Linked DNA regions of Homo sapiens. The protein of the gene in region 2 interacts with the protein of the main gene of each other region in a pairwise test. Each region holds a gene or a part of one and is shown on either strand. Other genes may lie near its edges.

Region 1 (7,027 bases), on a different chromosome or scaffold from region 2:
CTGTAATATGGTTACTAGAATTATAATTACACTGTATTTCTGTTGGAAACTGCTGGTCTGTGGTGTTTTCTGATGTGTCTAGAATGTTTCTTCAGCATCTTCCCACACTGCCATTTGTCCTGCTTAAAACTATTAGGTTTCTGGGTGTATATATAAGCAGTTAAGTGATAGATAATTTTAAATATCTCAGTAGCTGTTTAGATAATTAATCCAGCACAGTTGTTACTACACAGATACAAAAAGATAGTTGTGTCAGTTTGATTTTTTATTTTTACTCAACAGATGACTTAGGTTGGTTAATTATCTAGAGTTTATCGTTTACCTTAGATCCTAAAGTAAAAATGAATTAAGACCTATTAAGCACTTCAGTTATAAAATGTGGTGCTCAATGAAATGTCAGGCAATAGAGAAACTTTTCAGTCCTATGCTACCTATTTGGGTCTTTGTTTTTTCCTGCCTAAAAGAAGATACTGCCTAAAGGAAGTGGGTTAGGTGAGCAGACTTTTGTAGACTGGCTTAGCCTTTCATTAACTTTTCCCGAAGTGAGTGCTGCACATACTTTCAAAATAATAAACTAGGTAGTGTGATACATTTTAGATGGATTACTTACCACATAAATGTGTTAGTTTAACCTCTTCATTTAGTGCCGACTATGTCATGGCTTATGCTAGGCCTTTGAGGTAAAACAGCCGAGGAAGACATGAAATAAAACAGGTGGTGGCCAGGTGCAGTGGCTCACGCCTGTAATCCCAGCACTTTGGGGGGCTGAGGCAGGTGGGTCACTTGAGGTCAGGAGTTCGAGACCAGCCTGACCAACATGGTGAAACCCCATCTGTGCTAAAAATACAAAAATTAGCCAGCCAGGCCTGGTGGTACACGCCTGTAGTCCCAGCTACTGGGGAGGCTGAGGCAGGAGAATCGCTTGAACCCGGGAGGTGGAGATTGCAGTGATTAAGTAATAATACTATTTCCATGCTGAGCAAAGGGAAAAGGAGTTGATTACTTAGCACACAGTATGATTCTCAGATACACATTTAAATTGTTCCCTAGTGTTTTTATTGGTACCCTATGGTGGGTTTGTGGGGGCGATTGTTTTGAGTCAGCGTCTTACTCTGTCGCCCAGGCAAGAGTGCAGTGGCACAGTCATAGCTCACTGCAGCCTCAAACTCCTGGATTCAAGTGATCCTCCTGCCTCAGCTTCCCGAGTAGCTGGGACTACAGGTGCATGCCACCACACCCAGTGAATTTATTTTTTATTTCTAAAATTTTTTGTAGAGACAGCATCTCACCATGTTGCCCAGGCTGGTCTCAGACAATCCTCCCACCTTGGCCTGCCACAGTGCTGGGGATTACAAGCGAGAGCCACCACCCCAGCCCAATACCCAGTGTTTCATGCAACTTAAGTTTCAAGCTTTTAGGGGGATGGAGGAGATGCACTTGTGTTCCTAGGGTTAAGGCAAAAGAGGTGGTTAGTAGCACCAATTAATGTTAATCCGGGCATGAGTGGATAGCTATTTATATTAAACTGCCTGACCAATACCTTTAAGTTCTTCAGTAAGTGTTAATTTAATTGAAAAACATTTAGTTAACTATAGAAGCTGTGAAGATGTTAATTCGGCCAGTAAATTATTCATGACTGTTGGTGGGTTCGTTTGAGCTTTAATAGCTCCTAATAGACCTCATTAGTGCCTAAGAATGGCCCTGCAGTACTCCAGAGTTTCAGTTCCAGAAATCTCTTTTTTTGTGTTACTGAATCTTGGACTTGACAGTTCTTAATGTGATACGACAACCTGGAATGGGTTAATCCAGTTCAAGTGTTTCAAGATAACTTGTTTTCTCCATGTTGAGTTCTTTGGGTTCATTAATACACCTAAAGCATTAAGATAAAACCAATATACACAGTCTGTATTTTTTAAAGAAGAGATTATTTCTTGATTGGATAATTAAAACTATATAATTAAAGGTGGTATAACTGTTTACACTTGAATTGTGGCATAACTGTTTACACTTGAATTGTGGCGTCCTTTTGCTTATTAAGGATTAACTACCTTTTTCCTTTGGTTGTATATGGCAGCACTGGATTAGGTGCGAAAGGAGGCTGTGATAAAGAAATTTGAGTTTACCTCTCAGAAATTTGAAATAGAATTGGAGGAACAAGATACATAAAAACATGAAGTAAACAAAGTACAGAAATTGCTTGGTATCACTTGCTGCAAATTGCTTGGTGCAGGCAGTGGATGTTACTGCCCCATTCATTAGTAGGAATTAATGAATGAGTCTGCTGGAATGGTCAAGAAAGGCTTTTTTGTCACCTTGAAGATCACAACATAGTATTTTTTTGTGGGAAGACCCATATAAGCAAAGGTGGCTAGAATTCAGGAATCTCCCAAGAGTTGTGTTTAAGGATTAGGCGAGGTAATGGACTTCTGGTAGAACTGGAACACAGTAGAGAGTAAGGATGGAAGGTAGAATAGAGACACCTGGAATAGTAGTTCTTAATCCTGGCTGGAAGTCAGAAACACTTGGAGCAGGGGTTGGGGGGAGATAACAAGGCCTGGCACCTAACCTAGTGTAGTTAAATTTAGAATCTTTGTACGGGACTCAGGCTTTGATTTTGTTGGTTTTTGTTTGTTTGTTTGTTTAAGGTTGCTGGGGGTGGGTGGATAGCCAGGATTAAAAACTTCCCATCTAGAATGGTGGAAAAATAACTGAAGATGTTTGACAGGGGAGATGAGAAATGAAATTGGAGAGTTTTTGTTTTGTTTTGTTTTTTGAGACAAGGTTCTGATCTGTCTCCCAGGCTGTAGTGCTGTGTCACTATCTTGTTCTCTGCAGCCTTGACTTCCCAGTCCTAAGTAGCTGAGGCTCCAGGCGTATACCACCATGCCTGGCTAATTTTTTGTATTTTTAGTAGAGATGGGGTTTCTCCACGTTGCCCAGGCTGGTCTGGAGCTCCTGGGCTCAAGCAGACCTCCTGCCAAGGCCTCCCAAAGTGCTGGGATTACAGGCGTGAGCCAACTCACCTGGCCAAAATTCAAGTTTTTGATAGTCTGGTGGTGGTATGTGACAGAAAATGGAAAGTGTGCACACTGGAAGTTGGCGGATATATTAGACACCTGAGCTAAAATATGTCACTTAGTAGGATAAGAGATGAATACAAAAGATATAGCGAGGGAAATACTAACACAACTTGCAACATTGGGTATGGTGATGGAGAGGGGAAGAATCAAGATAGTTAAAGAAGTGGCCCTACCTCAAACCAGTTGTATTACTCTGAGTGGAGGCTGGGCATAGGTTTGTTTTTGTTTTTTTTTTTTTAAAGCTTCCCAAGTATTTGAGCACCATTACCCTGAGACATATATCTAGTCTGGGTAATAGGAGAATGATCTAAATAAAGTTGAAAGATCAGACAAGTGTATGTAACATTTGATATTTGAAGGAACATGGGATGTTAGAGAATAGAAAATGGCCAGATCAGCTGTTATTGAGTTTTTATTTTACATGTGAGGAAAGTGAAACTTAGAGAGATTAAATAACTTGTTCATGGTATTTACTAGTACCAGTGATTGCGATTAGGCTCTTCTGGTCTGAGCTATTTAATCAGCTCTGACCTCTCACCTGATAATCATTCTTCTGATGTTTTCAAATATCCATTTCTCAGCACGTACACCTTTTTCTTATCTCTGTAGAAATAATTTTCGTTAACACCATTTTGTAACTTTGGAGTCAGTGCAAAATTGTTGTTTATTTTATAGCTAATATAAAGCAGAAATGTGATTTTTACTGATAAATAAATTTTATTTCTCTTCTATAGACATTTCTCATCTATTTACTGCAGCAGTGCAAATGAGATTTCTGTTTGCTTACTAAGTCATCTCCTTTAGGATTTCAAGACTTAATACCACTTTCATCAAAAACTAAGGCACTGTTTCCTGTTACATCACGTTGAAATGCTTCATAATCGGGCTCCGCTACACCTGTCACACTACATATCCTATTTCACTTCAGCCCAGCTCTCTGTTCTAGCCAGGCTAGCCTGTTGATTTTCCTCTGAAACAACAAGCCACACATGTTGCCACAGGCATTCATGCAGAAGACTTCACTTGATGCTGGGCTTAGAAAATCATAGAATGCATGGTCGCTGCTCTGAAGAAAGAATTTAGTGGCATATTCTCGCTTGACTTATGTGCTGTTTCATGCCTAGAATACTCAGCTATTTTCTTTCTCCTAGAATTCTGCCTGATTTTCCAGGTTCACTTCAAATTCCACTTATTTAAAAGCCTTGGTTGCTTTGATGGACATGCAGTTGTGGATAAACAATAAATAATATTTCTAGATAGTCTGTGACATAATAGATACCTAGATACTAATTGAGCAAAATAATTTTTGGCATTTTTGTCCTATACTCTGTTTTTTTTTTCCATGTTTACATCTTGTCTTTTCAGCAAGATTGTCTATGCTCTCATGGCAGGGACTTCTTTTATGTTTTCCACAGAGCTAGATCCTTATAAAATACTTGCACTAAATTAAACATTATGCCATGTAACTGAGCTTATTTGGGGGAAGAGGTCAATAAAGACTATGGAATAATTTGAGGTCTTGGGTATGAGATACCAAAGGAGGTAGTTGCTAGTACTTGAGAGATTGCTCCAAATAACATCAGATGAGCATGCTTCCAAGTTTCCTGCATTACTTGCATGACCCATGATTCTAAGTTAATGAAATGAGTTTGTCCCTCTTCTCACCCACTGTCCCTGATTATTTTATGTATGTTATACTTAATGTCTTCATTTTTTACCTTTAGTATGAAGTGTAACAGAACAGACTTTACCACCTGAAACTGCTGCTTCAAGTTCAGATCAGGCAAGGAACAAACCTCGTAACAACTAACAAGACCAAAGAAGAGTACACTTAAGTTGAAGACACAACACTTGATCTGAAACAAGAAGTTTGTGCCTACTCAACAGCTTTGAAAGAGCACTTCCCAACGCTGCTAGTAGTCTTTGTTTTCTTCAGTGCTGTACTGTGAGATTGCCCGGTACAGCAGCAGTTGTATTCTTTATTAGCTTGGTAGATCATTTTCTCTCGCTCTTTTTTTTAATACTAGCAACTTTCATCCTTTGAAACGTGTGCTGAAAAAGAAGAATCAGCAAATACTACTGAAAGTGCAATATTTGAGTATCACTGCGAGGTAGGTTTGTAATTTCCTATTAAGAATCAGTTCCATAATTCTAGATTTCCTGATTATTTGGTCAAATATAAAATCTTTATTTGTTCTTTTCTAAAGGTATTCAGAAGACAGTTTTTCTATTCTCAACTAGTATGAAATATCAACACTATCTCTTGTTAGATAAGGACAGTATTTATGGTCAAACATTTTTCATACCAGATTATATTAATACATGCTGATCTCTCGACTTGCTGGTCTCTTAGAGAAGCTCCGTCTGTACTATTTAGAAGTTAGGATTTCAAATAAGAATGTGCATTGCAGTCTTTCTATGAGGGTCTGTGAAACTTTGGTGATATTTGCTACTGACGTCTGTTTCTTTCTCTCTACTGTCTTCAATGTTAGCTTCTTGAGGAAAGAACCTTACTTTATATCCATGCCTACATTTGCAGTGCATATTTGTGAACGGTATACAGTGCACATTTGTAAATGGTTGACATGCCTACTGTATTGTTAGGCATTGCTAGTGCTGAAATATAACGAATGAATAAGATACTAATGGACTTAATGATTTAGAACAATTTGTTACACAATATCACAATATAGGCTAAAAGATACTAATAAAATATTAAGAATATAACTGAAGCTGTTCCCTTGGAGGTAAGGAGGAGGGTAAAGAAAGCCTACAGAAAAGGGATATTTGAAGGTGAGTAGTACCTTGTTAAGAGGTAGAAGAGACATTGGTAGAGGTATAGAGGTAACAGAATTAGCAGATTCAGGGCTACGTGAAAGCACATGGTATATATTAAGTTGTTCATTATGAACAGAGTAGAGAATATAATTTTGCGGGAGAGTTATGAAAGGGAAGTTTGCTGGAGGCTTGGCCCAATGCATTTGTCTTTATTCCGTAGGAGAGCCATCAGATGTCTATAAGCAAGGGCTTAAGGGTTTTTCCCCCAAAAGTAAGATAGCTTTATTGCTTCACATTTTAAAGTAATATTCAGAAGTGTACCTTTAAAAGACAAATGGTGACACTTTTGAGGGAAAGGCTGAGGATGGGAAGACCTGTCAAAAGCAGTGGATCAAGTATAAGGAAGATAAAAGCTAAGGTGTAGGTAGAGAAAAAGGTAGGTGCTAGGTGTTCTGATGATTTAGAAGTGAGGACTTGGGGACCAATTGAATCTGAAGATAAATGTGGAGAGAATGGCTTTATCAAATCCAGTTGTGCAAACTAGAAACCTTCATTGTTCATAGGAATAGGGAAGTTAGAGTAGTAACTTACTGATATTAAAATATGTTATGGAAATCTATTGTGTTCATTAGATAGCAATCTGAAGTTGAAGGAAATACACTAGTATGGAATATTGAACAGTGGTTAACTTTGAGGGTAGGCTTATGAAGAGCAATTTTCCTTTTTAATCTTTAGTTTCCAGATTTTCTAAAGTTAGACATAAAGGAATTCAGAAAGGAGTCATCAGTGTATAGGTAATAAAAGGAAGAAGCACCAATGAAGAGAGCAAAGACATAGAAGTCAGGAAAAAGCACCAACGATAATTTCAGGAAGTCAATGGTAAACATTTTTTTAGATGCTACAGAGGTCAAATAAAATGAAGAATGAAAATAAGTCATTCAGTTACAAAAGCTTCACTGCTATTTCAAGAAGCGCTTAGGACTTTATTTCCAATTTATTGAAGGATTATGTAATAGTGTCAGTGACCTTGCTGTGCACTAGAATTATTCCTTAACAACTAAAAACTATAGTAAAATTATCTATGTCTCATAAACAGACACTGTTATTTAATTTTAAGGTAATTGTAGCATTTAGTTTTTCTATTTGTTTCTTCTTACCTTAGCTGATTT
Region 2 (7,027 bases):
CTGGGCTGGGTGGGGTGCGCCTGTAGTCCCAGCCACTCAGGAGGCTGAGGCAGGAAGATCACTTGAGCCCAGGAGTTCAAGGTTACGGTGAGCTATGATTGTGCCACTGCACTCCAGTCTGGGCAACGGAGCAAGACCCTGACTCAAAAACAAACAAAAGAAAAAGAATAAGGGGAGAAGAATACCTGGATTTTTACCAGGGTAGCTCAGTTTCTGTGGCCCTAGCAGCAGGGGCCTGCCTACCTCCAGCAAAAACACTTCCTTCAAAGATCAGATATTGGCTAGGTGCGGTGGCTCATGCCTGTAATCCCAGCACTTTGGGAGGCTGAGGCGGGTGGATCACGAGGTCAGGAGATCGAGACCGTCCCGGCTAACATGGTGAAACCCCATCTCTACTAAAAATACAAAAAAATTAGCCGGGCGTCGTGGCAGGCGCCTGTAATCCCGGGGGCTGAGGCAGGAGAATGGCGTGAACCCGGGAGGCACAGCTTGCAGTAAGCCGAGATTGCACCACTGCACTCCAGCCTGGGCCACAGAGCAAGACTCGGTCTCAAAAAAGAAAAAAAAAGATCAGATATTAGAAGCTTCCTTGGGCGGGCTGGGTGGAGGCCAACTGGGGTCATTGAGGCAGGCGCTGAGCCACGTTTCTCCCATTAGAAGCCTAAGGGGCCTCAGTGACCCTGACTAATGCCTGTAGCATCAGCTTGGCCTGGGCAGGTGGTCACCAAATCCGAATGTCCAAGCCACAGTGGGACCAGGAGAGGAGGCCCAAGCTGAGGAAACAGGGAGGCAAAGTCCTGTTCCTAAAGTTCAAGGCTGAGATCTGTCATGGCTGGGATCTCTCCTCTGCTTCCAGAATGGGCTAGTAAGTCTCTTTCTTCATTTTGGATTTAGTCCCCCGGTGACACTGCCTGATGAACTAGGTCAGAGGTCATGCCTGCTTGTGCTTAGTTTCTGCCCTTTGAAGGGGGTAGTAGCTACCTGGGAGGTGGGAAAAGTGTCAGGGATGGCGGCTTCCCAGAGGCACTCCCAGATGGCTCTGTGGGTTTCCTGGGATGTCCTTCCTTACCCCATCCTGGCTCCAGGCCACCCAGACTGGGGTGCCATGTCCCTGCGCTCCAGGGAGTGCCAGAGGGCTGTCCTGGCTGAGGGCCCAAGGGCCAGCAAACCCCAGCCCCAGGGCCCTCCTTTAGCCTTTGTTCCTCTCCCCCAGTGAAGAACTCGCTCTACCAGTTCTGGGACTGAGAGTCATGGCCACATGTTACCCTGCAGCTCCCTGGGGTGGGGTGGGGGTGTTTGCTCTGGGAGTGGGCTGGGGTATGCCTGGACCTTGGTGAGGCATGCGACCCCAACTCTGAGTTTGGAGAGTTCCACGGGTGCTCAGCCCTGCTCTGTGGCCAGGCTGAAGGGGTCCCCAGGACTGAGCGCAGCTTCAGTGGAACAAATATTGGCTGAATATCTGCCATATGCCTTACTGGCAAGGTCAGGGACTGATGGGGCTTCAAGGCACGTGCACCCAGACTGTGGAGGCAGGAACAACGCAGGGTGGGGGTGGGGTGGGGCCGGAGGTTCCCAGGTGGGAGCAAGCAAGCCTGGGGCTCTGGGAGGCTTCTTAGAAGAAGTAGCTTCAGAGACCAGAATTATTATTATTAAATATTTAGAGACAGGGTCTCACTCAGTCATGCACGCTGGAGTACAGTGGCACAATCACAGCTCACTGCAGCCTTGAACTCCTGGGCTCAAGTGATCTTCCTGCCTCAGCCTCCTGAGTGGCTGGGACTACAGGTGCGTGCCACTACACGTGGCTAATTTTTTCTTTTTTTTTTTGTAGAGATAGTCTCACTATGTTACCCAGGCTGGTCTTCAACTTCTGGGCTCAAGTGATCCTCCTGCTTCAGCCTCCCAAAGCTCTGGGATTACAGGTGTGAACCACTCTGTCACCGAGGCTGAAGTGCCATGGTACGATCCTGGTTCACTGCAGCTTCCTGGGCTTAGGCAGTCCTCCCACCTCAGCCTCCCAAGTAGCTGAGATGACAGGTGTGTGCCACCATGCCCAGCTAATTTTTTTGATTTTTTTTGTAGAGATGGTATTTCGTCATGTTGTTCAGGCTGGTCTCAAACTCCTGGGCTCAAGCAATCCATCTGCCTCAGCCTCCCAAAGTGTTGGGATCACAGGTGTGAGCCACTGTGCCCAGCCATTATTATTATTATATTTTTTATTTTTTTGAGACGGAGTCTCACTCTGTCGCCCAGGCTGGAGTGCAGTGGTGCGATCTTGGCTCACTGCAACCTCCGCCTCCTGGGTTCAAGTGATTCTCCTGCCTCAGCCTCCCCCAGTAGCTGGGATTACAGGCATGTGCCACCATGCCTGGCTAATTTTTGTATTTTTAGTAAAGAGGGGTTTCACCATATTGGCCAGGCTGGTCTCAAACTCCTGACCTCGTGAGCCACCCACCTCAGCCTCCCAAAGTGCTGGAATTACAGGCGTGAGCCACCGCGCCTGGCCTATTATTATTATTATTATTTTTGAAATGGAGTCTCACTCTGTCACCCAGGCTGGAGTGTAGTGGCACGATCTTGGCTCACTGCAACCTTCAACTCCCGAGTTCAAGCGATTTCTGCCTCAGCCTCCTGAGTAGCTGGGACTACAGGCATGCACCACCACACCCAGCTAATTTTTGTATTTTTAGTAGAGACGGGGTTTCACCACATTGGCCAGGGTGGTCTCGAACTCCTGACCTTGTGATCCATCTGCCTTGGCCTCCCTAACTGCTGGGATTACAGGTGTGAGCCACCTCACCTGGCCATTATTACTTTTTTGAGACAGAGTCTTGCTCTGTTGCCCAGGCTTGAGTGCAGTGGTGCCATCACAGCTTACTGCAGCCTTGACCTTCTGGGCTTATGGGATCCTCCCACCTTAGCCTCCTTAGAGGTTGGGCAGGCCCACCTGGTGAATTTGTTTTTATTTTTTGTAGAGATAGGGTCTCTACAAAAGCCATGTTGCCCAGGCTGGTCTTGAACTCCTGGGCTCAAGCAATTCTCCCACCTTGGCCTCCCAAAGTGCTGGGATTACAGACATGAGCCACCACGCCCGGCCCCAGAATTATTTTTAAATAAGATATATATTTTTTTCTGATGATAAGAGTAACATGTATGAAGTGCAGGCTTGTGGTGGTAGCAGGGACCTCAGGTTTTATTGGCTGTAGGATTTCAGAGAAGGAAAAAAGCTGTGTTGGAGAAAGCAGGAAGGTGTCTTGCAGGAAGTGACACTCAGAAGGAGCCATAAAGGGATGGGCCCGAGGAGGTGCGCGTGCCTTGGACACTCTGGTCCCTTAACAGATGAACATTCAAAAGGAAAAAAATAGTAACATGTGCTCTTACAGAAAAACATAAAGAAAAATATAAAACCACCCAGAGAGAGAGTTGCTACTAACATTCTGGTTCATTTTCTTCTAGTCTTTTTTTTTTTTTTTTTTTTTTTGAGACAGAGTCTTGCTCTGTCACCCAGGCTGGAATGCAGTGGCGCGATCTCGGCTCACTGCGACCTCTGCCTCCTGGGTTCAAGCAATTCTCTGCCTCAGCCTCCTGAGTAGCTGGGATTACAGGCACCCGTCACCATGCCCAGCTAATTTTAGTGTTTTTAGTAGAGACGGGGTTTCACCATCTTGGCCAGGCTGGTCTTGAACTCCTGACCTTGTGATCCACCCGCCTCAGTCTCCCAAAGTGTTGGGATTACAGGCGTGAGCCACCTCACCCAGCCTCTTCTAGTCTTTTATTCATGTATAATTTAACATGAATTGTGAGCATCCTAGACGAAGTTTTATATCTTGTGTACTTTTTTTTTTTTGAGATGGGGTTTTGCTCTTGTTGCCCAGGCTGGAGTGCAGTGGCATGATCTTGGCTCACTGCAACCTCTGCCTCCTGGGTTCAAGTGATTCTCCAGCCTCAGCTTCCCGAGTAGCTGGGATTACAGGCGCCTGCCACCACGCCTGGCTAATTTTTGTATTTTTAGTAGAGACAGAGTTTCACCATGTTGGCCAGGCTGGTCTCGAACTCCTGATCAGGTGATCCACCCACCTCAGCCTCCCAAAGTGCTGGGATTACAGGCATGAGCCACTGTGCCTGGCTGGGCATGTGTGTTTTTAAGGCCTGTTGCCTCCGTGGGAATGGATTTTGGAATGCATTGTTGTGGGGAAAAGGGGAAGGGGGAAGAGAGAACAGCTTGGGTGAAGGTCAAGAGAAGAGATGGCAGGGTGGAGTCCTGGAGTAGTAAATGCAGGTGTATGTGTGTATGACACGTGTGTACGCATGTGTGTCTGTGTGCACGTGTGTAAGGCATGTTTCTGTGAGATCTTGGCTGAGTGCTGGGCTGAGGTTTGGACTTGTCCCAGCAGGCAGTGGGGAGCCCCTGAAGGGCTCTGGGTGAGGAAGCAGTGCCTGTGGCAGCGGTGCCGTGGTGCATGCAGGATGCCACCTCGGTGCATGCGTTGGCAGCAGCATAGAGGCAGGGTTGAAAGAGGTGGATTTGAAGTTGGCAGCCCTGGCAAGGGCAGCCTGAGCTGCAGCGCTGGAGGTGGGCGCTGAGAGGGGCGTGTTGGGGTCAGAGAGCCACAGAGGTGAATTCACCAGATGTGGCAGCTGTTTTGGGTGTGCTGTGAGAGGGCAGAGCCGGAGGCCTGTGGCGGGCATCCTGGGTGACTGGAAACGGAGTACAAGTCACCTTTGTCTTCTTCCCATGGAGAGAGGGCATGGTCTTGACCTGGATCCCTGAGCATTTGACCTAATGGTGTGGCCTGGGGCTGTGCCCAGGTGGGGAGGTCAGCCTGCTTTGCCAGGGGAGGATGGTGACTTAACCAGGGTCACACACCTCCTCAGGGGTGGCGTTGGGCTTTGGCTGACTCTGTGCCTAGCTGACCCCTGACCATGCATGCCTGGTGTCTCCAGCCTGACTGTGCTGTCCAGGGGTTGTGGTGGCTGAAGTATGTCCCCCACCCATGTGGGATGGCTCTGGGACCCCAGCAGGTAGGGGGACTCTGGCTTCCCTCTCAGGGTCTCTCCTGGCCACAAGTTGGGCAAAGTGTAGGCCCTCTGGCCAGGAGTTGTGTAACTCTGGACCCTTGGTCCCCCCACAGCCCGTGGAAGCCACCGATGATGCCTTTTGGGACCAGTTCTGGGCAGACACAGCCACCTCGGTGCAGGATGTGTTTGCACTGGTGCCGGCAGCAGAGATCCGGGCCGTGCGGGAAGAGTCACCCTCCAACTTGGCCACCCTGTGCTACAAGGTGAGGGCTGCCCAGTCCCTCCTGCTACTCTTCCACCCTCCCAGCCCACAGCAGGAGAAGGCAGGCGCATCCAGGGCCTCCCGCCCCACAGGGGCAGGCAGCCCTGTGGCCTCACTCAGCTCTTCCACTTCTCTGTGGTTCTCTTTGCTGGGCGTTGGGACCACGGCAGCCGTCATTTATGGGGGAGTCCTCCAGGCCACATCTGACTGAGCACCTTCCACAGATCAGTTCATTTAGCTCCCTCTGTGGGGTGGGTACTGCCAGGGTCGCCAGTTTACAGATAGGGAAACTGAGGCTGGGAGACTCACTTAGCAAGGCCTCAGCCATCCAGTGGCTAGCTGGGCCCTGGCTGTCCTGATGCTCCAAGCTGCTCTGGCCTGTGTCCCAGTCCCCCAAGGCTGGCCGACCCCAACTCCAGGTGGCTCCTCTGCCTGTGGCCCCACTGTCTCTCCTCTGCAGCCTGGGTGCCCCCCCTGACCCTCCTCTGCAGCCTGGGTGCCCACCCTGACCCCAAGTGCCAGGGTCCTTTCCCCACCTTCCAGCCTGCCCTCTGCTCCTGCCTGCCCCCACAGGCCGTTGAGAAGCTGGTGCAGGGAGCTGAGAGTGGCTGCCACTCGGAGAAGGAGAAGCAGATCGTCCTGAACTGCAGCCGGCTGCTCACCCGCGTGCTGCCCTACATCTTTGAGGACCCCGACTGGAGGGGCTTCTTCTGGTCCACAGTGCCCGGGGCAGGGCGAGGAGGGGTCTGTGGGCCTGGCCAGGGCTGGGTGGGAGGCAGAGTTGGCGTCACAGGGAGAGCGCCCTTTAGGGCCGGCCATGCTCCTCCAAGCCTCTTCTGGGATTTGGGAAGTACAGGGGTGGGGCCAGTGGGTGCTGCTGAGGGATGGTGTTCAATGCCACCTCCTTGGGCCCTCAGTTCCCCTCCCATGGGGGTTTCTGTGCCCACAGTCTGGAGGAAGTAGGGTATGGAGAGAAGCTGAGAGCCAGGGGTCACTGGGCAGAGGTGGAGGCAGAGGAGCTGGGCCCTCTGAGGGCCGGAGAGGGACCACACTGTCCTCTCTCCCCCACACCACCTGCCCTGGGTTTATGTCCAGGTGAGGTGCTGAGGGATGCAACACAGTGATTCCTAGCAGGGCTGAGACTCTTGATGTTGGGGTCACCGCCCGGCCCCCTCCAGTCAGTAGGGGAGGTTCCCTCGCTGTTCCCGGCCCGGCTCCCTGCTGTGCCCCACTTCTGCCTTGGGAGGTTTGGGGCAACCAGGAGTCCACTTCCTGTCCCTTCATTCCTCTGCCCATGGGTGCCCGCCTGGGCTCAGCCCCTGTCCTCCACCACCCCCAAGCCCTGGGCCACCTCTTCCTGGCCAGCTATCACTGAGGCAGCCTGTGGGTGCTGTGTCCCCAGCAGGGAGAAGAGGATGATGAGCATGCCAGGCCCCTGGCCGAGTCCCTGCTCCTGGCCATTGCTGACCTGCTCTTCTGCCCGGACTTCACGGTTCAGAGCCACCGGAGGAGCACTGTGGTGAGTGTCCCCCAGCCCCCCACCCCCAGGCGGAGTAGGCTCTGGTCCTGGGTTGGGGCCGGGCCAGTTGAAGTTCCCTTGGGCGGATTGCACTGGGGGCCGGGGGGCTCCAGGAGAGCTGAGCTGCCTGGCACATGTAGGCCTGGGTGGCAGCTGGTACAGCTGAGGGAAGCCAGCTGGGGCTGGCCCTGCCCGCTGCGTTCGGATGGCTGGGCACAGACACCCAT

The links. The genes of interacting proteins can lie anywhere in the genome.
Region 1: the proteins of HID1 (region 2) and CSDE1 interact in binary tests that used the Homo sapiens proteins (3 or more experiments, as listed by UniProt).

Annotation. Positions count from the first base shown.
Region 1 is NC_000001.11:114,747,985-114,755,011, reverse strand, and holds part of CSDE1 (cold shock domain-containing protein E1), read left to right. Parts: intron 1-4,804; 5' UTR 4,805-5,191; intron 5,192-7,027. UniProt on the Homo sapiens protein: RNA-binding protein involved in translationally coupled mRNA turnover.
Region 2 is NC_000017.11:74,962,738-74,969,764, reverse strand, and holds part of HID1 (protein HID1), read left to right. Parts: intron 1-5,132; coding exon 5,133-5,282; intron 5,283-5,854; coding exon 5,855-6,025; intron 6,026-6,683; coding exon 6,684-6,800; intron 6,801-7,027. UniProt on the Homo sapiens protein: May play an important role in the development of cancers in a broad range of tissues.